Homo sapiens: one gene and its partners. The protein of the gene in region 2 purifies or fractionates together with the protein of the main gene of each other region. This does not show direct contact. Each region holds a gene or a part of one and is shown on either strand. Other genes may lie near its edges.

Region 1 (3,500 bases), on a different chromosome or scaffold from region 2:
CTTGGGTAATTTTTAAATTTTTTGTAGAGAGAGAGTTTTTCCACATTGTCGAAGCTGGTCTTGAACTCCTGGGCTTTAAGCAATCCTCCTGCCTCGGCCTACCAAAGTGCTGGGATTACAGGCGTGAACCACAGTGCTTCCAGCCCCAGGTTTGTTTTTAAAAGAGATTTTCCATGGGGTGGAGTAAATGAGGCTGGATACGGCTTGTACCTGATGTTAACTGGAACCAACATTTTCTACTAATCTAGGTTTAGGAGAAGAGTATGTATGCAACTGCACTCATATAAATGCATGAATGACTCTGAATACAAACAAAATGTGCATATATAAATTAAACAGGACAATTAAAAAAGACTAATGTCACTTATGCAGCCCAAATAATTCCCTAAATAATACAAACACATTATCTGAAAAGCCCTAGATAATAAGAACAAAACACTTCCCAGTTAAGGTCAAACAACTATATAAAAATATTATGTGACAACTGAGTGAAGAGATCCTAATCAGTAGCTCAAAGGGTCTTGCTCTGTGTCCCAGGCTGAAGTGCAGTGGTTCAATCTCAGCTCATTGCAACCTCTGCCTCCCAGGTTCAAGCGATCTGCCTACCTCAGCCTCCTAAGTAGCTGGGACTACAGGTGCATGCCACCATGCTCGGCTAATTTTTAAATTTTTTGTAGAGAAAAGGTCTCACTATATTGACCAGGCTGGTCTTGAATTCATGGGTTCAAGCGATCCTCCTGCCTTGGCCTCCCAAAGTGCTGGGATTAACAGGCGTGATCCACTGCACCTGGTCCCAGTGCTCTTTTTTAGCTTTATCTATTGAGATTAATAAAACCCCCCACATTCTCTGTATAATCTACAAAATAAAAAGCTACCTGCATGAACTATTTCCATTAGTGTATTCTACAGTTTGAAATGCTTCTCCAGCTATCACCGTGGAGACTAGTGCTCATCCATTCCTTTGAGCCTCTTATAATTTTCTTAATGGTGTTTTGTGAATTTCTCATCTCATCTCTAGTACTGGACTACAAGCTTCTCAAAAACAGAAACACCATCTTCTTCATCTTTATATCCTCAGAACACTTACACAGTGCCTTGCCCAGGAGGTTTAATAACATTTCAATCAAATGGAATTTATATATGATTCAAATGTAAGGAAATATAAACACAGAGCTAGAGAAACCATTAAAAAAGGAATTTCAAATCCAGTTACACATCTCTTCATATTTAACTGACATTTGACACAAATCTGAAGCAATAAAGATTCTTGCAAAAGATACCTCTTATTTGGAGACAACACAAAATGTCAAAGCAGCTCTACTTAAACAGGTTCTTGATGGCAATAATTTTTAAGCCAGTATGAACAGAAACCTTAGATATATGATCCATTTGATCAAAGTTTCAAAACAAGTAAAAACATTTTATATCAATCTGGAAGTATTTACTGAGTGCCGGTGCAAAGTTCTGTGCTAGACACTGGAGACACAACAGTTAACAAGAAAAAAAGCCCTCCTATCAAGAAACTTACAGCTAATTGAGTGCTCAATTAACTCAAGCCAAGAAAGAATTATTTAATGCACCTGTTATCAGCCACTTGAAGGAGGTCTGCAATGTAAGGGTCATCTGGTTGAGGAACTGGATATGAACTGACTTCAGAGGGAGGAACCGGTTCATCAATTTGCATACGCTGGCGCCTGAAAGCAATACTTCTTTTCTTGCCACCTAAAAAGAATGAGTGTCTTAAAAAACTAAGAAGAAACAAAACCATGTCTTAGAATTAAATATTCCAGGTTAGCCTTTCGGTTATAAAGTGTGTCTGCAGTTCATAATACATATTGACAAAATATTTTCTCCATCAATATATAAATATCCACCCTGATCTTTAACTAAACAATGCATTCCTAAAAACCTCAACAAGACATGGTTATCAAACAAGTTTTATATGCCTGCAAGCTTGGCATATATGCCCAGGCTTAATATGTTTGCCCACTAGATGGGGATAAGACTTTGGCAAGTTTAAAAGCTGAATGCGGCCAGGTATGGCGGCTCACACCTATAATCCCAGCACTTTGGAAGGCCGAGGCGGGTGGATCACCTGAGGTTGGGAGTTCGAGACCAAGCCTGGCCAACATGGTGAAACCCCGTCTCTACTAAAAATACAAAAAAATTAGCTGGGCGTGGTAACGGGCACCTGTAATCCCAGCTACTTGGGAGGCTGAGGCAGGAGAATCTCTTGAACCCGGGAGGCCGAGGTTGTGGTGGGCCAAGATTGCGCCACTGCACTCTAACCTGGGCAACAAGAGTGAAACTCCATCTCAAAAAAAAAAAGCTGAATGTGCCTGTGGTGTTCACTATTATGAGCTCAAGAAATTATCACTAGCAGAAAACTGGCAGTGAGAACTAAAATATGCGTGGTTATTAGCTAATATCAACATAAAAGATAACTGAAATTGTAAGTAGCAAAGTTAGAATGAATGGAATGTCATCTATAATATAAAGTCATGCTATAATCTGAATTAGGAGGGAATGTTTTCTTAACCTCTACAAGTAGTAGGACTAAATTTTCTTATGGCTAGATATATCTTGTCTTGGTCAAAAATACATGGACAATTTATCTCTTTAAGGATTTTGCCAAGATTAGAAGTGTATTTGAAAAACCAGCAGATCCTTGTGAAGAACAAACATAATCCACAATTTTGTCTCATTAGAATTCTAACAAATTTTGTATACTCCTACAGAGGTAGGAGTATACAAAAGGAGTTTTAAGGATAAGAAAACTGGGCCAAAAGTATTTAAATGACCTGTTTGTTCACACACCTGAACAAAGCTAACCATTCCTTCTTTCTTTACCTCCTGGTTTTCCTCCTTGGTGGCTCCTCAGTTTCTTTCAGAAACTGTCTTCTTCCACCTGTCCCTTAAATACCAATTTCCCTCACATCTGACTCTGGGTCTCCTCTCTTCCCAGTCTACATAATCTCACTAGATAATTCTTACTACACCCATAGCTTCAATTACCATGAGACTCCAATGACTCTTAAATTTGCATCTCCACCAGGGCCCACACTTTTGAGAACAGATCTACATATCCCACTGTTTGCCAAAAATTTAGACATGAATGTCTTGTGGGTATAGCATACTCCACACATCCAAAAGTGGACTCCTGCTCTGCTTCCCACATTCTCTAACTTAAGAAATAGTATCACCCTCCACCTAACTCATTCACTCGAAAGAGAAGTCTGAGAATTCCTCTGCTTCCCAAATCTACATTTACTCACTATCTTGATTATACATCTTGAATCTCTCCGGAGTCTATCCCATTCTTTCCTCAGGAAACCTGATTATCCTCTTTTTTGCCTTAATCTTCTAGTTACTTTCAAGGTTGACTCCCACTTTTCTCTATCTCTTCTGCCTTTTGCTCACAGTCCCCATGTCCATCTATCTCATTTACTAAACTATCTCACGCTCCACTGAGTCTTCCCCCACCTGGCTTCACAGTTCTA
Region 2 (3,500 bases):
CAGCTGCCAGAAACCTTGCTTATGGCTTCCTGATGCTACAAAAGCTGAGGCAAGGCCTTCAGTCTGTTTTTTCAAAGCAGTCATTCCGGTAACACTTCTAAAAGCAAAACCACGTGATCCATGCCTATAATAGGGAACCCTTATGGCCAAAGTTTCTAGTTGATAGAAGAACAAAAGAATTAAGGTAACAAGACAGGTGGAATGTGTAAGAGCTTGGACTCTGAAGTCAGGCTGGATTTGAATCCTGTTTCTGCTACTTATTTGTGAGGTTTTGAGAAAACCAAGTTTTAGATTAAGTTCATCCATTAAGTGGGGGCATTAAATGCCTGCACCATAGGGTTATGATGATTAAATATAAAGGATTTAGCAAAAGAGATGCCTGCAGCATAAATAACATTTTTAAAGTATTGGTTTTAAATGAGACAGTGCTGATTTTTAAAGGCAACCTACCAGAATGGAGGTTGTTGATTATTGATTCTCCTTTTTCACTGCAGAATATTAGTACAGCTGTTTTGAGTTTGTTTTGTGCTTAATAAACCTTACATCAATTTTGCAGTTCCTAGGGAACTTGGAAAACTAGGGATAGATCATCATTTTTGTTATCAGTAGCCACAACTTTTTTCTCCTCAGTGTCGTTGGGGTTTCTTTTTTTTCCCCTCACCGCTAGATGTTTTGACCGAACATTATGTTCAGTCTGTTCTTTGCTACCCTTCTCCTGTCCCATCATGCATGACTGTGTTCTTTCTTGTTTTTTTCCTTCTACTCTTCAACAGCTGCCCCTGACAAATGTGCTAAAAATAACAAGTAGACTTACATATATGGAGAGATTGGGTACATGAGACATAGTAGCTTTAGGGCAGCACTCTGGGCTTCTAGGAAACAAGGACAGGAAAAGTCAGTGAGATTGTAATATGCACTTATTTTTAGCGTCTTAATAGTGCTTTCCTGAAATACTCCTCCTTAGTGTTTGGCTTATACAACATATATCACGTTTGCTGAAAGCATGATGATTCTTTTTCATATCTTTTGAAATAAAATGTATTTCACCTTAGGAATTGAAGTTTCAGAGCAAAGTCGTTCCTTAGTGCCACGTAAAACATCATATGCAGAAGCTGATCGAAAGCTGCTTTTGAACATGTACGCTTATTCCTGTAACTTAACTGCATTTAGTTAATTGACTGAATGGCTGACTTTCCTACCTATTCCATGTCAGAAGTAAAAGTTGTCTTGATCCTTTAAACCATATTTTTTAATAATCTTTATAATATCTACTAGCTCTCTGACTAAGTAGTCTGGTTAAGCCAGTCAAGAGCATCAAAAGAAAATTCCTAAAGCTCTCATCCATATAACTAAGCTACTTCAAGGTTGTCAGTGTGTTCTCTTAAAAATATATAGATGGATCTCTAGGATAGTAAAAATTATTGAGATCAAATATAAAAGTCTTCGCCAACGTTTTCTACTATTACAACGCTATGAAATTTATTGGGCATAATAGAAAAAAAAAATAGGAATATATAGGCCAGTGGTATTTGCCTTATGCACTAAGGACATAATATAGCATGATTTATTAGTGACTGAATAACTTCCATTTTTAAAGAAAATAGTTCTATAGATTTGAAAATTAAGTAGAATCATTCACTGAGCTACTATGTGCTTGTTGTCTTTGAGAAAATAATTATATGATGGAGGGAAGGGAGCAACATTGTGGCATCTACCAGGTGACAGATATTTGGAATCGGTTCTTACTTTAGTTGTCTCTAGAGCCTGAGGGAAGCAGTGGTTTCCATATTTTTTGTTGTTGTCACAAATGAAGGAATTTGATTACTTTTAAAAATCAGCAACTTTTATTTTACATGGACAAGAAGTGGTAGAACTTAATTTTAATTCATTTTGTTCTTGTCATCCAGTCTTTCTGGCAGACTCTCATCCTTTATACACGTTAATTGCTGTTTCTGTCAGTCTTTTTTTGTGACTCAACAGTTTCTGAGGAAGAAATGGCCGAGCTTACTTAGGAAACTAAAGAGAGGCTCATGTGATGGGGATGATGTGAATGAAGGGGGAGAGGGTATGAGGTGAGATCTCAGGGGAGGTCAGACATGCTGGTAGACCACTGTAAAGACTTGACCTACTGTAAATGTGATGAGAAGCCAGTAAAGGGATCTCAACAGAAAAGAAACATTGAAGAGATTATTGGACTGTTTTGTTGGGACTAGACCACAGGAGGTAAGAGTATAAAAGCAGGGAGAACAGCTGCTATAATCTTTTCAGTAGAGAAATGAACATGGGTTGTATTAGAGAAGCTGGCAGTGGAAGGTCTGATTAAATGGTTAGATTTGGAAAATGTTTTAAGCATATAGAGGTGTTGGCATTTCATGATGGATTGAGTGAAGAGTATGAGGAATGGTAATATATTGTATGAGGAGTAAATAATACCTCTGCAGTTTTGATTTAAACAAATACGGGAATACTGAAGAAAGATTGGGTTTGGAGGGAAAGGTGAAAATTCTTTGGAGGTCTTTTTCTCATATTAAATTCACGTACAAGTGGAGGTGTTAAGTAGGCAGAAGAAATAAAGCAGAGGGAAGAGGTAGAAAGTGGCTGGAGGATGGAAGGTGTAGTCTTAGATACAGTGGTTGACAACATTTTTGGGAGTTCATTAAGTTGTATTTGAGAAGAGACCTAAATGGAGCAAGGGATCAAGTCCATCAGGTCCCAGGAAAGGCGTGAATGGGAGTCTGAAGGGGAGAAATGGAACTGCAAATAATTATTTGGAATTATTTATTTATTTATTTATTTATTTATTTTTTGAGATGGAGTCTCACTCTGTCACCCAGGCTGGAGTGCAGTGACACGATCTCGGCTCACTGCAAGCTCCATCTCCTGGGTTCATGCCATTCTCCTGCCTCAGCCTCCTGAGTAGCTGGGACTACAGGCACCCGCCACCACGCCTGGCTAATTTTTTGTATTTTTAGTAGAAACGAGGTTTCACTGTGTTAGCCAGGATGGTCTCAATCTCCTGACTTTGTGATCCACCTGCCTTGGCCTCCCAAAGTGCTGGGATTACAGGCGTGAGCCACCGCTCCTGGCTGATTTGGAGTTATAAAACAGGATGTTTAAAGCCGTAGGGGCAGGATGATATTAACTATAAAGTGAGTGTAGGTGGAAATAGGGTCCTAGGATCAAGTTCTGGGACACACCAACGATTAAAGATTAGGAAGATGAGGATTGTCTAGCAAAGGACAGTGAGAAGGAGCAGCCAAGGAGAATGTATTTCAAGAAAGAAATGTGTTAAATGCTTGTTGATAAGTAGAGATTAAGCTGAGAATTGATTATTAGATTTGGTAACTTGGAGGTCAGTGGTTTGGTGAAGACAAAAGTTTAAATAGAATGAACTTAAGAAACAGCAAAGGGCGGGAAGAGGAGACATATTCCCCATTGAGGTTTCTGTAGTGGTGGTCATGGTGTTTGGTTTTTCTTTAGTATGTATGTCTGTAAAGAAA
Region 3 (2,466 bases), on a different chromosome or scaffold from region 2:
TCTTTCCCTTCTCACAGGTTCTAGCTCTTATCTTCTTGTACCCCTTCCCTGCCGCAATATATTATCTTACGCAAAGCAAGTAAACTTTCAGTTTCCTATTCCCATTACTCTATTTAGCAAACCTAGGACCTTCCTTAGGACCCAGCATCCTCACAAGGCAGGGTGGGGTTGTAAATAGCCCCCAGTTTTTGCTGTGTCATAAATTATTTTATTCCTTGTTACATTAGCAAAACAGACATTTCAATGTGAATCCTCCCCGTTGATAAGCTTAAATTAAGAATATAAAGTACAACACTGTAAAACCTTTGCCCTGATGTTAAAAGCCTTTCAGAAGGTTTTTGAAATCCCTATTTCCCACTTGATCTGGGTTCCTCTTCACCCTGTGAGACACTCCAGCTGCATTGAACTGCCAGTGTTCCCAATCAGCTGTGCTCTGTTAAACATCCACATTTTAGAAAAGCATGCTTAATTTTTCACTAAATGATAATTATTTCCCCAGCATTTAATGTATTACTCATTCTCTCCACATCAAGGACCTTGTAAACAAATTCAGAGCATTATCTGTAGGTTCTTTTAAGATCATCTTTAAATAATTTTCAAGGTGGGATGCGGGGAGTGTCAGCAAGGCTTCTCTCATTAAAAAACCTTAAAATCTCCATTTGTCCCTGTCAAAGCCTGAATTGGAAGCAGGGTCAGCATTAGGGTGAGACAAGAGATGCAGGGTTGTGCAAGTGCAGGGTTGTTAAAAAGGAAAAAAATTGAAATTGCTTAAGAAAGTCATTGCTTTTGAGGGGTAATAGCAGGTGTACTTCCCTAAGTACAATAGCAAATCTTTCAAAGAAAATTTCTATCCTATTTTTCCTTGAAAATAACCATATTGAATACAGTTATAGAACTGTATTTTATTTATTTGTATGTGCTACAATTTGGTGCATGCAGCAACCACAGTTCCTTAAATTTTTGGCCATTGTTTTCAGGACTCAAAATAGCTCAGCATTCCATTCTATAAGGCCCATGTTTCTTTCCCATGGTACAGTATGAGTACTTTTTAAAGTAGGTGAACATAAAATAAAAGTTTGCTAGTTGTAGTGCATATGAACAAAATAACCACATGGGTTTTATGGCACATGTTCTAAAAAGATAAAGATATAATGGAGAGATATCTCATTCAAACAGGTTAACATTATAAACAGTGCAAGTGAGGGCCATAGAAGCAAAGTAACATAGTAAAATTAACAAATATAAAAACCTAAGCTGAAAGAGGAGGTATGGAGATTTTTTAAATAGTCCTGAAAGATAATAGAGATTGCTCATAATTTGAAGTAGACATAATTCAGGATTTGAAATAAATCATCTAAAATTTTAAACATGTCATATTGTTTAAATCATTCTCTGTCCTATAGGAATGACGGTAATAACTTGACTATGTACTTTGTAGTGTCCTGAAAATAGTATGCTCAGTTAAGTTTATAAATTGCAAAATAACCATCTCTTTAAAGTGGAACAGCATTCATCAGGGAATTGTTCACTTATGAAGAGGTCATCCAGACCTGGAGACAAGCTACTTTTTTGGTGAATAGAATATATTGCCATTGCTACTATTTATCCTCCTTGTTTTCAGGAATGCTTCACTACTTATTCTCATTATGATAAACTCTATCTCAGGCTTTTAGGTATCATTTAAAACCCACTTGTGTGGGGAGGTTCTATCACTCTCCAAATAACTTTGCAGGGCCCAAGGCTATAAATATGAATATATTTATACAAACCTATTTTGTTATAATAGGGCCTTGGGCCTACTATACAAACCTATTTTGTTTAAGGCTATAAATATGAATGTATTTATATAAACCTGTTTTGTTATAATAGAGCCCAAGGCCCTATTATAACAAAATAGGTATGTTATAAAACTATTATAACAAAATAGGTATGTCATAGAACTATTATAACAAAATAGGTTTGTATAAATATATTACAGGACAATTATTTACCATTATTACAGGAAAATTATTTCTCATCTGTATATCCAATAATTACACAAAATGGTTGTGTTTTGAAGTTGGAGAACAACCACATTCTAAAAAGGCACAGAGCAAAAAAGAAAATAAGCTCATATTTTACTATACGAAAAAGGTAAACAAAGAAGTGGTTGAAAAATCCATGTTCTATTTAAAGTCCTCTCATTCCAGAATTATAGAATATAATTGATTTTATGTGATTATCAAGTATAAGCTCTTGGAAATTTTATGATGTAAAAATAGAGGCAAAGCTGTACTCATTAATAAAATAAAACATTTGATTAGCATATATTGATAAAATAAAATATTCATGATTGTAGTTTATTTTTTGTTGAATTTATTAATAATCTTTATATATATTTATATATGTATGGCTTTGAGCAAAGACAAAAGAAATACTCTAACTCATCCCTGATCATACAGTTGTTGTAAGAATCAGCTATTCTAT
Region 4 (2,287 bases), on a different chromosome or scaffold from region 2:
GGTTTTGTTTAAATATACCCATTGAGCAGCTCCTTTCCTAGAGGCCAGGAAATAGGGCTGAGGACTCTACCCTCAGTTTTCAATCTAGAGACTGTGAAACTGTAGAGAAACACACTGTCTAGTAGCAATCCATATACTTTTTCTAGTAAGCATATTAAAAACCGAATACTATACTATATTCCTTACAGCCCAGTGAGTTTCCCAGAATCATAAATAAAACCCACCAGTACCTACTATGTAACTCCCAGTAAGAGGCTTTGACTTTTGTCAAAGTTGTGTCCCAGTAAAATGCCTTCAAGATACCACAAACTGGCCTGGCGCAGTGGCTCACGCCTGTAATCCCAGCACTTTGGGAGGCCTAGGCGGGTGGATTACCTGAGGTCGAGTCAGAGACCAGCCTGGCCACCAAGGTAAAACCCCTGAAAACACGTGTTAGCAAACGTACCTTGTTAGTATCTACATTAAGAAAAAAAAAAAAAAAAAAAACCTTGAAATTCAGGCAATGTAAACAGGTTAAAGATTAACACCGAAACATCATGAGTGTACTGTGTAGTGGTGAAGCAGCTGAAAACGGACTCGTGTCATCTTTTTATGATTGTTGAAGTGGCTCTGAAAAGAGCCTTTGTTTTTATGCGCTTTTCAACTCGGTCTTTACTTAGTCTTGTGGTGGCTCTCAGTTTTCTTTGGCAGCAGCACGGCCTGGATGTTGGGCAGGACGCCACCCTGTGCGATGGTGACTTTGCCCAGAAGCTTGTTGAGCTCCTCATCGTTGCGGATGGCCAGCTGGAGGTGACGCGGGATGATGCGAGTCTTCTTGTTGTCGCGGGCCGCGTTGCCAGCCAGCTCCAGGATCTCGGCGGTCAGGTACTCCAGCACCGCCGCCAGGTACACCGGCGCTCCAGCACCGACCCGCTCCGCATAGTTGCCTTTGCGGAGCAGGCGATGCACTCGGCCTACGGGAAACTGAAGCCCGGCCCGAGAAGAGCGGGTCTTGGCCTTGGCGCGAGCTTTGCCTCCCTGCTTACCACGCCCAGACATGGCAAAAGGTCTATTACCTTTACGGTCAAGAAAGACTGAAATGAAATTGGAAAAACGTACATTTTATAGCCTCTACTGGGCGCGAAAAGGAAGCTGTGCGATTGGCTTACGTTTTATTTTTATTTAGACCAATAGGACTCGAGTATGCAGGATACCTATTTTGATTGGGCAAAACTGGCATCTGACGTCATCCACGGATAATCACCAATCAGCACTGACCTATTCTACTCCTAATTTGCATAATAACATTTAAATAAAGAGGACGAAACAGCCCTAAGGTTGTCTTTTATTTTGTTTTCCACCATGCCTGAACCAGTCAAATCTGCTCCAGTCCCTAAAAAAGGCTCCAAGAAGGCCATTAACAAGGCTCAGAAGAAGGATGGAAAGAAGCGCAAACGCAGCCGCAAGGAGAGCTACTCTGTGTATGTGTACAAGGTGCTGAAGCAGGTCCACCCCGACACCGGCATCTCTTCCAAGGCTATGGGAATCATGAACTCCTTCGTCAACGACATCTTTGAGCGTATCGCCGGAGAAGCGTCACGCCTGGCGCATTACAACAAGCGCTCGACCATCACTTCGAGGGAGATCCAGACGGCCGTGCGCCTACTGCTACCCGGGGAATTGGCCAAGCACGCCGTGTCCGAGGGCACCAAGGCCGTCACCAAGTATACCAGCTCCAAGTGAGCCTCTCGCTGCAGTAACAGTTCCGCCGTGACCCACACCCCAAAGGCTCTTTTCAGAGCCGTCCACGTTTCTCAAGAAAGAGCCAGTTCACTGTTAAGTTTGTCTCCCATTAGGTACCCTTTGGGACTCGCTTCGTACATATAAATGTACTTGTATATGTGGGTTTTTTTTTGTTTTTTGTTGTTGTTTTTGAGGTGTAGTCTCACTTTGTTGCCCACCCTGGAGTGCAATGGCACGATCTCGGTTCACTGCAATCTCCACCTTCCGGGTTCAAGCGATTCTTCTGCCTCAGCCTCTCGAGTAGGTGGGACCACAGGCATGTGGCACCAGGCCCTGCTACTTTTTGTATTTTTAGTAGATACGGGGTTTCACCACGTTGGCCAGACTGGTATCGAACTCCTGACCTTAGGTGGTCCACTTGCCTCGGCCTCCCAGTGTTGGGATCACAGGTGTGAGCCACTGCGCCCGGCCCAAAATATTTTAAAGAGGATTATTAGCAACTATGAGTGACCGTGGCTTAGGGAAGACACAATCCCCCGAGACCATGAGAAAGTGGTTCTGAGGC
Region 5 (3,500 bases), on a different chromosome or scaffold from region 2:
GGATTGGTGGGCCCTGTGGCACTTGTACCTGCTGTTGCTGTTGCTGCTGCTGCTGCTCCTTCTCCTTGAGCACTTTCTCTTCTTCCCCAGCCTGTTTATCTTCTACTGCCAGCTCTTCAAAGAACTATAAAGGGAGTTAAGCTACAGGTAAACATGTTTCCAAGAGCAATCCAAGCAGGCTGTGCTCTGCCACACATTGGCCCACTGGCCCTCCACTCCACCCTCACCTTACCTCCTGTCTCTCTCTTTTTTTTCTTTTTGTGGAGAATGGAGTGTGCAGGTCTCAAATTCCTGGGCTTAAGCTATCCTCCCACCTCTGCCTCCCTAAGCGCTGGGATTACAGGTGTAAGCCACCGTGCCCTGCCTATCTCCTCTCTTGACAAGATCTTTTCTCCTCCCTTGGACCTCCCACCTCCTTCACATGGCTATTTATTTAGCTTGGAAACATCCATAGTCATTTCTTATCCTCAACCCTCATTTTCTCACCGTTTTTTTGATCTTCTTGTCCTTCTTCCCTTTCTTCACCACTTTGTCTAGAAAGTTAAGCGGACATCGTGAATGCTTATCTGCAAATTCCAAAGCAGTCTGATCCCCCCTGCAAAGATCTCTGTAGCCTCTATCCTATTTTATTATTTTTCTAGCTTAACTATCACTCCTTAAATATTTGTACTGTCTCACAACTCCTGCAGAAATAATCATTCCCATCTCTATTCATTCATCCACTAAGTATCTACTAAACAGCTACCATGTGTCAGATATTGTGCTAGCGTAGGGGATCATAGCAATGAACAAGACAAATGTGGTCTCCTCTGGAGCTTGCAGGCTATAGGAAGAGAGATTTTTAAATAGGTAATTCCAGGTGTACTGAAGGTTCCAAAAGAAAAGGTAAAGCCTACTTGGTGGTGGGGGAGAGGCTGGCTTCATCTCTGGTGGCGGCCTCTCTAAGAAGATGGCATTTAAGCAAATAACTGAAGTAATGAGGAGTATGAGAAGTTAGTCAGACACATGGTGTAATTCCAGTGCTGTGCACAGGCCCAGCTGTGAGAAAGCACACACACTGAGAGACAGGGAAAGGTTTGGTATGGCTAAGCTTACAGACTGAGGGGAGAATGGTGCAAGGTAAGGCTGGAGTGAGGGCCTTGTAGCAAGGTTAAGGAATGGGGACTTTATTGGTATGATCACTTTCACACTTTAAAGTTTCACTCTGGCTTCAGAGTACAGCAAGAATCGGAGGGAATAAGCATAGTGGGAAATCCACTGGGGAGGCTGTCAGAGTAGTCTGGGTGGTGGTGACAAGCGGACATAAAGAAGAATTCATAGGATGGGGCTAGAGGTGGGGAATAAAGAGCACCCGGCCGGGCGCGGTGGCTCATGCCTGTAATCCCGGCACTTTGTGAGGCAGAGGCAGGCGGATCACTTGAGGTCAGGAGTTCAAGACTAGTCTGGTGAACATGGTGAAACCCAGTCTCTACTAAAAATACAAAAAATTAGCCAGGCATAGTGGCGGGCGCCTGTAATCCCAGCTACTCAGGAGGCTAAGACAGGAGAATTGCTTGAACCCAGGAGGCGGAGGTTGCAGTGAGCTGAGATCACGCTATTGTACTGCAGCCTGGGTGACAGAGCAAGACTCTATCTCAAAAAAAAAAAAAAAAAAAAAAAAAAAAAGAGCACTCAGAGATGACTCCTGTGTTTTTAGCTGGCAAAATTAGCTGGGCTAAGTGGTACCATTTATTAATTAAGGAGGCAGTGGAAGAGAAGGTCTTATAGGAAGGAAGAAGATATTATAAATTCAATTTGGGAGATATGTGTAGATACACACACATGTATACAACACACACACACCCTCCTTTTTTTTTTTTTTTTTTTAAGAGACAGGGTCTTGCTCTGTCACCCAGGCTGGAATGCAGTGGCATGATCATAACTCACTGTAACCTTAAATTCCTAGGCTTAGGTGATCCTCCCACTTTAGCCTCCTGAGTAGCTAGGACTACAGGCAAGCGCCACCATGCCTGCCTAATTAAAAAAATAATAATTTTTAGAGAGGAGGTCTCACTATGTTGCTCAGGCTAATCCTGAACCTCTGGCCTCAAGCAATTCTCCTGCCTCAGCTTCCCAAACTGTTGGAATTATAGGCCTGAGCCACTGTGCCTGGCCAGGGGGACACGTTGTTTGTAAAACCTATAGGCCATGTAAATAGAGTTATCTGGTAAGCAAATGAACACCTCAGTCTATGCCTTACTTGTTCTGCTTGAATATTATAGCACAAATCACATTGTGTCATATTTACCTGTCTGTGTGCTTTCATTCTAGAGAGTAACCTGAGAGACTGTTTAGCCTGTGTTCCCAGTAAAGCCAAAACAGATTCAACAGATTCTAGCTCTCCCCCTCTCCATCCTTGTTTCCCTGAAGGTAGAGGACCATGTCCAACTCCCTCCCCTACTGGAGGCAGCCTCATGATTTCCCTTCAGGCTTAGGCCTATTTATTATCTTCTCTTCCAAAACATCCCTTCCATTCACTGCTATCTAATTCTACCCTTAAGCATTTCAGTATTTAATATTAAAAAAAAAAAAATTGGTCGGGTGCGGCGGCTCAGGCCTGTAATCTCAGCACATTGGGAGGCCAAGGTGGGTGGATCACAAGGTCAGGAGATTGAGACCAGCTTGGCCAACATGGTGAAACCCCATCTCTACTAAAAATACAAAAATTAGCTGGGCGTGGCAGAGCACGCATGTAGTCCCAGCTACTTGGGAAGCTGAGGCAGGAGAATCGCTTGTACCTGGGAGGTGGAGGTTGCAGTGAGCCAAGATCGCGCCACTGCACTCCAGCCTGGGTGACACAGCGAGACTGTCTCAAAAAAAAAAAAAAAAAAGAAAAAAAGTCAATGGTATCCGCCATCTACTACATTAAAATATTCTCAGACTAGAATTCCATGTATTTCAAAGTAATCATTTATTCAGGAAAGTTTTATGGTGCATCTACTTCTCCAAAAAACTAGAGTTAACGAGAGACAATTCCAATAATTAAAGGCTTCACAGACTAAAATGGCCCTACCCTATCTTTTCTGTTTCCCTACCCACACCTCTGGTCTCGATACTGGCTTCTTTCTGTTCCTTTATGAAGTCCCAGGCACGCTTATGTCTGTCTTTGCTTAATCTGCATCCTCCATCCAGAACACATTTCAAAGTTTGGGGCCCTCCTCCTCCCCAAAAAACAAACCACAAAAAACAAACAAAAAAGTTAAAGAAAAAAAATCTGAGCCCAGTATTGGGTGACTAGTGTGAGAGTTGAAAAATTGTGCAGGATTAATAATAAAAGGCTTTATATGCTATTCCAAGGAGTTTAATCCTAAAGGCATTAGGAGGAAGGATCTACTGAAGTACCTAAGAAGGAAAAACCTGATCAGCTCACCTTATCAACACAGATGACTGACTCATCCCAGACACTAATTTCTCCCCAAGGACTAACACAGCCATACCATCTCTCCTTCCTTTAAATCTCT
Region 6 (3,500 bases), on a different chromosome or scaffold from region 2:
TCAAAGTGGCAAAACTGTCCAGATTGGGTGGCTCATGCCTGTAACCCCACCACTTTGGGATGCTGAGACAGGAAAACTGCTAGAGCCCAGGAGTTTGAGACCAGCCTAGGGAACAAAATGAGACCTTGTCTCTATAAAAAAATAAAAAACCTTGGCCAGTGCGGTGGCTCACGCCTGTAATCCCAGCACTTTGGGAGGCCAAGGTGAGCGGATCACGAGGTCAGGAGTTCAAGACCAGCCTGACCAACATGGTGAAACCCCGTCTCTACTAAAAATACAAAAATTAGCCAGGTGTGGTGGTGTGTGCCTGTAATTCCAGCTACTCAGGAGGCTGAAGCAGAAGAATTGCTTGAACCCGCGAGGCAGAGGTTGCAGTGAGCCGAGATCTCGCCACTTCAATCCAGCCTGGGCGACAGAGCAAGACTCCATCTCAAGAAAACAAAACAAACAAACAAAAAACAAAAAACAAAAAACAAAACAAAAAAAACACAAAAAAGAAAAGAAAACAAAAAAACTTAGATGGGCATGGCAGCCCATGCCTACAGTCCCAGCTACCTGGGAGACTGAGCGGAGAGGATCCCTTGAGCCCAGGAGGTAAAGGCTGCAGCAAGCCATGAACACACCACTCCACTCTAGCCTGGGTAACAGAGCGGGACCTCGTCTCAAAAAAAAAAAGAAAAAAGAAAGCAAATTTTAAAAAAGATACGTAATATTCAGCACTGATGAAGGGGTGAAGAAACACACAGTTTCATATGCCAGTGGTAGAAGAATAAACTGATATAAACTGGAGGGGGTAATTTTATTAAAAAGTTAGAAAAGGTTTAATTAGTAGAATTCTGCATTTGTATCTGCATTGTATTTTAAGCATAATTTGTTGAAATCAAAGAAAAACATTGATTTGCACAGAAATTCAGAGTTAGAAATGTCCATTACAGTGTTGTTTACTTTTTTTTTTTTTTTTTTTTTTTGAGACAGAGTCTCGCTCTGCCACCCAGGCTGGAGTGCAGTGGAGCAATCTCAGCTCACTACAACATCTGCCTCCTGGATTAAAGCGATTCTCCTGCCTCAGCCTCCCGAGTAGCTGGGATTACAGGTGTGCACCACCACGCTCAGCTAATTTTTGTATTTTTAGTAGAGACAGGGTTTCCCCATGTTGGCCAGGCTGGTCTTGAACTCCTGACCTCAAGTGATCTGCTGGCTTCGGCCTCCCAAAGTGCTGGGATTACAGGCATGAGCCACTGGGCCCGGCCTGTTGTTTACAATTTTAAAAATACATTTAATTTTCATAAATTGTGTGTAAGTAGATTACATGTTTGAGAAGACAGATTCTATGCCACATTAAAAGTTAGAGCCAGAAAGTTTAACTTCATGATAAAATGTTACCAAATTAAACCAGAATAGACAAGAATACATAACAGGGTTACTGGCTAGTGGGATTATGATAGTACTTAATGGTAGAAAATCTTGTTTTCTAAATTTTCTGCCATGTATTAGGATTAGATTTGTAATATAAAAAATAAAATGGCCTTCAATTTGCAATGCATTATATGCATTTTTTATCCAAGGAGAAGTATTTAATGACCAGCCATAGCAAATCATATTATATAAGGTCTGCAAGATACCTATGTATTGTGAAGTTATAGTCCTATTGCCTCAAAAAGCTTACCACAAAAAGTCCTGTATTTGCGATGTTCCTTTTTCACCAAAATAAGTATTTTGCACTTTACCCCTATTATCATCAAGCAGACTCATTTCCCCCACCCTCCTGCTTCCTCAAATCAGTTTCTAGCTGGCTGCCTAGAGTTCAAAACCCCTAACCAGTCCCTAAGCTTTGAATTTGCACTTTTTCTATTCCATGTAACATGTGACAAACCATTACTCAGTTGAACACTTTCCAGAAAAAAGTCAGTTAAAAGAAGAAAGTCTTCCTGGCTGGCCTAGGGAAAAAAAAAGTAAGGAAGCCTTTTAACTTGCTTACTTTTCTACCTCAATTCTCTTTATTTAGACACTGTTTAGAATTAAAGGATGAGTTTAGGATTGGGAAAAAAAGCTATTATCTCAAAGCCTGGTTGTTCTTTTCTTTCTTTTTTGAGATGGAGTCTCACCCTGTTGCCCAGGCTGGAGTACAGTGACGTGATCTTGGCTCACTGCAATCTCCATCTCCTGGGCTCAAGCAATTCTCCTTCCTCAGCCTCCTGAGTAGCTGGGATTACAGGCCTGCGCCACCACGCCTGACTAATTTTTGTATTTTTAGTAGAGACGGGGTTTCACCATGTTGGCCAGGCTGGTCTCGAACTCCTGACCTCAGGTGATCCACCCGCTTCGGCCTCCCAAAGTGCTGGGACTACAGGCGTGAGCCACCGCGCCTGCCCTGGTTGTTCTTATCCTCTTTCTAGCCCTTTTCTCTACCCTCAAGAATATTATAAAATGATGTGCGAAACTGCCTATCGGGATAGAGTGCATAGGAAGTAAAAAACTATTCCTACAGACTCAAAATGAAAAATATTTTTATTTGCCAACATAGTTCTTCAAATCTAACACTATCAAGTTGGTACCACACTTGGGGCAATAAGGGAAGGAGACCCCTATCTGCAATTATACCTTTCATTTGGTTTTTACATCTACCTCGTTTGGCTACCACAATAAACCTCTGAGGTAGCTGGACTATCACTAGCTTCCTGATAAATTCTTCCTATGAAACAGCATCGCTTCTCCTGTTCAAACATCAGAGGCAGCAGCAGCTGCCATACTCATCCACGTAGGAAACAGCATTGGCCTCTTTATGAGTAAAACTTTGTTCAGGGCTTTAGATTTAGTAGTTGCCAGGGGAGAATAACTGTGAACATTCATGTTGATAAACCAGATTTAAAAAAGGAAATTGCTTTCTCAGAGACCATTCAGAAAGAAAGAGGATACTGCCTGATTTCTTATGAAGTATTTAGGTGATTAAAGGTGATACAGGGGACTGATCACTCCTTATCTCTAAAAATACTTCCTTTACTTGGCTTGTGGGACAACACACTCTTCAGTTTCCTCACACCCCACTGTCCACTTTTCAATCCTCCTCGATGGCGCCTTCTCTTTTGCTCAGCTTTCCATGTGGAAAGTACCAATTCTCAATTCTTGGATCTCTTCTCAGTCTAACTCCCTAGCCAAGAGATCCCTTTAAGTCTACTGGTGATGCTTAACATTTAACTATCCTCAGTCCAAACCTCTCCTCTGAATGCTTGACTTACATATCTAACTGCCTACCTGATGTGTCCACTTGGGCGTTTAACAGACACTTCAAACTTAACATATCCAAAACATTTGACTCTCTAAAGCCAGAAACTAGTAACTTTCACTATTGCCACTACTGTCGCTCTAGTCTAAGCCATTAATGTCTCTTAAACCAGATCATTCCAATCATTTCCTAGCTTATCTCATGGTTCCCAGTGTTTTAAAGAATTCCCAGAGCCATTCTTTAAAAATATAACCCAATTTTTTGGCTTTGCTCAAAA
Region 7 (4,072 bases), on a different chromosome or scaffold from region 2:
TCGGGCCCCAAGGCTGCCACCTTGCAGGAGCCTTACCTGCGGTGCCGTCACCCGCACCTCCCCAGGTCCTCCCCAGACCCAGGACCCAGACCAGGCCCAGAGCTCAACCCCTTCAAAAAGGCTCTGGGCAGCTGCTTCTGTGGCCTCAGCACCACCCCCTTTCTCAGAGAGGAATCCCAGGCTCAGGATTGTGTGTGTGCTGTGACCCTTGTCCTCCTCTGCCACCGAACCAGCTGGGGGTTGGATCAAGGCACTGGAACCCTCGCCCTAGGGCTGACCAACTTGGCCAGCGGCAAGAGAGCTGTGGTAGCCATGGCCTTGGGAGCTCGGCCCGGCTTGTGGGAACAGGAGCTCTGCTCACGGCTGCACCACCAGGCACCCCTGGTGAGACCCAAAGCTAGGAGTGGGAGCGGCAGGAAAGATGGAGCGATCTCCTCCAGCTGGGCTGAGGAGGGAGGGCTTCCTGGAGGAGGTGGTGGAGGAAGAAGCCTTCAAGGAAGAGCAAGAGTTTGCTGGGCAGCGGGAAAGAAATTTCTAGAGAAAATTTCAGCAGCGGAGACCGAAAAGAGAGAGGGTGTGTGTAGGGGGCTTGGCGCGGCACAGCCTGCGGGAGGGCGGCGGGCTGGAGAGGCGGGGAGGCCCGGGGAGCCCACCCGCCTGGGATAAGAAGGGACACTGTGGAACCTGGACTCTCCTTCACGGCTCCGCGGAGCTCGGTGGGCGCCACAGCCTCCCGGTGCCTGGGAGGGCGGCCGTCGCTCGCGCTCCCGCTGCGGGCCCGGTCTCCGCCAGGCCCCGGCCCCCTGAAGGCGCTCAGATCTCAGTTTTGGCGACAGCGCCGGGGTGGGCTTCGTGCCCGTTTCACGCGGAGGAACCCACGCTCAGGAGGGAGTCTGCGCCTGTGTCCGGCCCCTGCGGGGCAGAGGGGCGGGGAGCTCAACCCCCGGCAAAACGTCCCCGCTGCGCGTGGCTGCCGCGAGATCTGCAAGAGCGTTTTCCACGCTTATGTACACGAAATTCACTCGGCTGCGACGACGTCCGTTCCCGGAGCAGACGGACCCTGAGTCCGCCCCCCACGCCCTCACCCGCCCTCTTCTGCCAGAAAGCCCGGGCGCGGGCGGGACCGGGTGGGCGCATGCGCGCTGGGCTGGCTGGGCGGGGTCTCTCGCGCCGGGTGAGGGCGCTGCTCCCAGGAACCTGCGCGCGGCCCCGGCGGCGTTTCCCGGGGGCCGGTTGGCGGGCGGACCTGGGCGGTGCGGGGCGGAAGTGGGCGGCTGCGGGACGCGCGCGGAGTCGCGCGGCGGGCGGGACCTGGCCGAGCTGGAGGGCGCCGGGGAGCGGGGCTCGGGCGGTCCCCGAGGCCCGGCGGAGCGGGCTTCTGGGGTGTCTGCGGCGGCGCCGGGGGAACGGGCTGGGGATGGGGCGCCTAGCCGGGCGGTGGCCGGGGCCTCGGCCATGTTCGCGGGGCTGCAGGACCTGGGCGTGGCCAACGGCGAGGACCTGAAGGAGACCCTGACCAACTGCACGGAGCCGCTCAAGGCCATCGAGCAGTTCCAGGTGGGGCGGCCCCCGGGGCGGGGGGAGCCCAGTTGGAGGGCCGGGCCGCCTGCTCGGGAGTCGGGCCTGGCGGAGGCGCCGGAAGTTTTCCGGCTTTCTGCTGGTGGCTGAGTCCTGTTCTGGGGGTGGAGTCCGGAGCCAGCACCCCTTTGCTGGACGGCTGGGTGGCTTTCGGTGGCTGCGGTTACCGCCAGCACGGCTGGGAACACCTGGGTGCGTGCCTCCCTGTGCTCTCAGGACCTCGGGGTGCCCGGGCGCACTGGGCTGCGTTTGAGGTTTCTCTTGGCTTCCTCAGACAGAGAATGGTGTGCTGCTGCCATCTCTTCAGTCAGCCCTCCCCTTCTTGGACCTGCACGGGACGCCGCGGCTGGAGTTCCACCAGTCGGTATTCGATGAGCTGCGGGACAAGCTGCTGGAGCGAGTGTCAGCCATCGCTTCGGAGGGGAAGGCTGAGGAAAGGTGGGTCAGCGGGAGGGGTGGGCAGGTGAGATGTGCAGCCGGCCTCTCAGCCTTGGATCGACTCAGGGGCATTTATTGTCCTTTTGGCTCCACATCCTTGCTCCCAGAGGTGGCCTGGGCCTGTGTCTGAGTGACCCCTTGACCCATGTGTCCTGGGCGTGGAGGCTTGTCCTGGTAGCTGTTATCTGTGTAGGGACAGGCAGGTAGCTGCTGCGATTTGGCGCATCGCTGCACCATCAATCCTGTGAGTTGTTCCAGGTACAAGAAGCTGGAAGACCTTCTGGAGAAGAGCTTTTCTCTGGTGAAGATGCCGTCCCTGCAGCCCGTGGTGATGTGCGTCATGAAGCACCTGCCCAAGGTAGGGCCCTAACCCTAACCCTGATGGCGTGGACCGTCCGCCCACTCTCATGCCCTTGGTTAGTGGAAGTTCCGGTGGCCGCCTAGCTCCGGGAGCTTCCTGTGCTGCCTGCCCAAGTGCTGTCCATGGTGAGCTCTGTGCTGACTTCTCCCACATGAGCCGCGTGGAGACCGAACCTTAGCACTGGAGTTAGGGTGTGGGGCCCCTCCTGGGAAAGAGCTGTTGGTATTTAGCATGTCTGTCTGACATGCTGGGGCCGGGGAACCAGTCATAGGTGCCCTGTGGGGTGGAGCTTAGCTCGAGGTGGTCTCTGCGGGGCTGAGGCCTCTTGGCTTGTCTTGAAGGAGACCCAGGGACACAGGTGCCACTCACAGGCAGCCTGTGGTGTCATGTAGGTTCCGGAGAAAAAACTGAAGCTGGTTATGGCTGACAAGGAGCTGTATCGAGCCTGCGCCGTGGAGGTGAAGCGGCAGATCTGGCAAGACAACCAGGCCCTCTTCGGGGACGAGGTTTCCCCACTCCTGAAGCAGTACATCCTGGAGAAGGAGAGCGCTCTCTTCAGTACAGAGCTCTCTGTCCTGCACAACTTTTTCAGTCCTTCCCCCAAGACCAGGCGCCAGGGCGAGGTGAGGGGACAGGCCGTGTGCGGGGTGGGGCACCTCTTGGGGATGCCACGGCTAGCGCCTTCAGCTGCCTGGGGATCAGCACTCTGCTGCCCTGTGAATGATCGGGTGGTTCTGCTTCTTGGCTGGGTGGTGGGGGAGGGCTGGCTTGTACACATGCTGGAAAGAAAGTTGGTTGTTTTTCTGTTTGCATTTTACTTTTCGTTAAAGTGATATATGGACAACATTTAAAATCTGCGGAAAGCCCGCTCATGTGAAGTTAATCCCCCCTCCCCTACTTTTTTTCTTTTTCTTTGAGACGGAGTCTCGCTCTGTTGCCCAGGCTGGAGTGCAGTGGTGTGATCTCGGCTCACTGCAAGCTCCCGGGTTCACTCCATTCTCCTGCCTCAGTCTCCCGAGTAGCTGGGACTACAGGCGCCCGCCACCATGCCTGGCTAATTTTTTTTCTTTTTCTTTTTTTTTTTTTTTGAGACGGAGTTTCGCTATTGTTGCCCAGGCTGGAGTGCAATGGCGTGATCTCGGCTCACTGCGACCTCCGCCTCCCAGGTTCAAGCAATTCTCCTGCCTCAGCCTCCCGAGTAGCTGGGATTACAGGCATGCATCACCACGCCCGGCTAATTTTGTATTTTTAGTAGAGATGGGATTTCTCCATGTTGGTCAGGCTGGTCTTGAACTCCTGACCTCAGGTGATCCGCCCCCCTCGGCCTCCCAAAGTGCTGGGATTACAGGGGTGAGCCACCGTGCCTGGCTTTTTTTCTTTTTTTTTCTTTTTTAAGAGACAGGGTCTCACTCTGTTGCACAGGCTGGAGTGCAGTGGCGTGATCACGACTCGCTGCAGCTTTGACTTCCTGAGCTAAAGTGATCTTCCTGAGTAGCTGGGACCACAGGCACGTGCCACCACACTGGGGCTACTTAAAAATATATATATATTTTTGTAGAGGTGGGGTCTGGCTATGTTGCTCAGGCTGGTCTTGAACTCCTGGGCTGAAGCGATCCTCCCACATCAGCCTTCTAAAGTGCTGGGATTACAGACATGAGGCACCATGCCTAGCCGAGATTTGTTGGGGTTTTTTTT

Evidence for each region.
Region 1: the proteins of YBX3 (region 2) and CEP135 purify together in Homo sapiens (co-immunoprecipitation; one large-scale study listed by IntAct). This does not show direct contact.
Region 3: the proteins of YBX3 (region 2) and HCN1 purify together in Homo sapiens (co-immunoprecipitation; one large-scale study listed by IntAct). This does not show direct contact.
Region 4: the proteins of YBX3 (region 2) and H2BC14 fractionate together in Homo sapiens (co-fractionation; one large-scale study listed by BioGRID). This does not show direct contact.
Region 5: the proteins of YBX3 (region 2) and ABCF1 fractionate together in Homo sapiens (co-fractionation; one large-scale study listed by BioGRID). This does not show direct contact.
Region 6: the proteins of YBX3 (region 2) and CEP170 purify together in Homo sapiens (co-immunoprecipitation; one large-scale study listed by IntAct). This does not show direct contact.
Region 7: the proteins of YBX3 (region 2) and NELFB fractionate together in Homo sapiens (co-fractionation; one large-scale study listed by BioGRID). This does not show direct contact.

Annotation. Positions count from the first base shown.
Region 1 is NC_000004.12:55,955,445-55,958,944, reverse strand, and holds part of CEP135 (centrosomal protein of 135 kDa), read right to left. Parts: intron 1,723-3,500; coding exon 1,581-1,722; intron 1-1,580. UniProt on the Homo sapiens protein: Centrosomal microtubule-binding protein involved in centriole biogenesis. Acts as a scaffolding protein during early centriole biogenesis.
Region 2 is NC_000012.12:10,706,324-10,709,823, reverse strand, and holds part of YBX3 (Y-box-binding protein 3), read left to right. Parts: intron 1-3,500. UniProt on the Homo sapiens protein: Binds to the GM-CSF promoter. Seems to act as a repressor. Also binds to full-length mRNA and to short RNA sequences containing the consensus site 5'-UCCAUCA-3'. May have a role in translation repression.
Region 3 is NC_000005.10:45,256,915-45,259,380, forward strand, and holds part of HCN1 (potassium/sodium hyperpolarization-activated cyclic nucleotide-gated channel 1), read right to left. Parts: 3' UTR 1-2,466. UniProt on the Homo sapiens protein: Hyperpolarization-activated ion channel that are permeable to sodium and potassium ions. Displays lower selectivity for K(+) over Na(+) ions.
Region 4 is NC_000006.12:27,813,703-27,815,989, forward strand, and holds H2BC14 (histone H2B type 1-M), read left to right. Parts: upstream 1-1,319; 5' UTR 1,320-1,341; coding exon 1,342-1,722; 3' UTR 1,723-1,787; downstream 1,788-2,287. Other genes in the region: H2AC14 (histone cluster 1, H2aj), read right to left, coding at 652-1,038. UniProt on the Homo sapiens protein: Core component of nucleosome. Nucleosomes wrap and compact DNA into chromatin, limiting DNA accessibility to the cellular machineries which require DNA as a template.
Region 5 is NC_000006.12:30,574,442-30,577,941, reverse strand, and holds part of ABCF1 (ATP-binding cassette sub-family F member 1), read right to left. Parts: intron 534-3,500; coding exon 487-533; intron 125-486; coding exon 29-124; intron 1-28. UniProt on the Homo sapiens protein: Isoform 2 is required for efficient Cap- and IRES-mediated mRNA translation initiation. Isoform 2 is not involved in the ribosome biogenesis.
Region 6 is NC_000001.11:243,245,282-243,248,781, forward strand, and holds part of CEP170 (centrosomal protein of 170 kDa), read right to left. Parts: intron 1-3,500.
Region 7 is NC_000009.12:137,254,055-137,258,126, forward strand, and holds the start of NELFB (negative elongation factor B), read left to right. Parts: upstream 1-1,272; 5' UTR 1,273-1,311; coding exon 1,312-1,557; intron 1,558-1,852; coding exon 1,853-2,016; intron 2,017-2,274; coding exon 2,275-2,374; intron 2,375-2,769; coding exon 2,770-3,000; intron 3,001-4,072. UniProt on the Homo sapiens protein: Essential component of the NELF complex, a complex that negatively regulates the elongation of transcription by RNA polymerase II.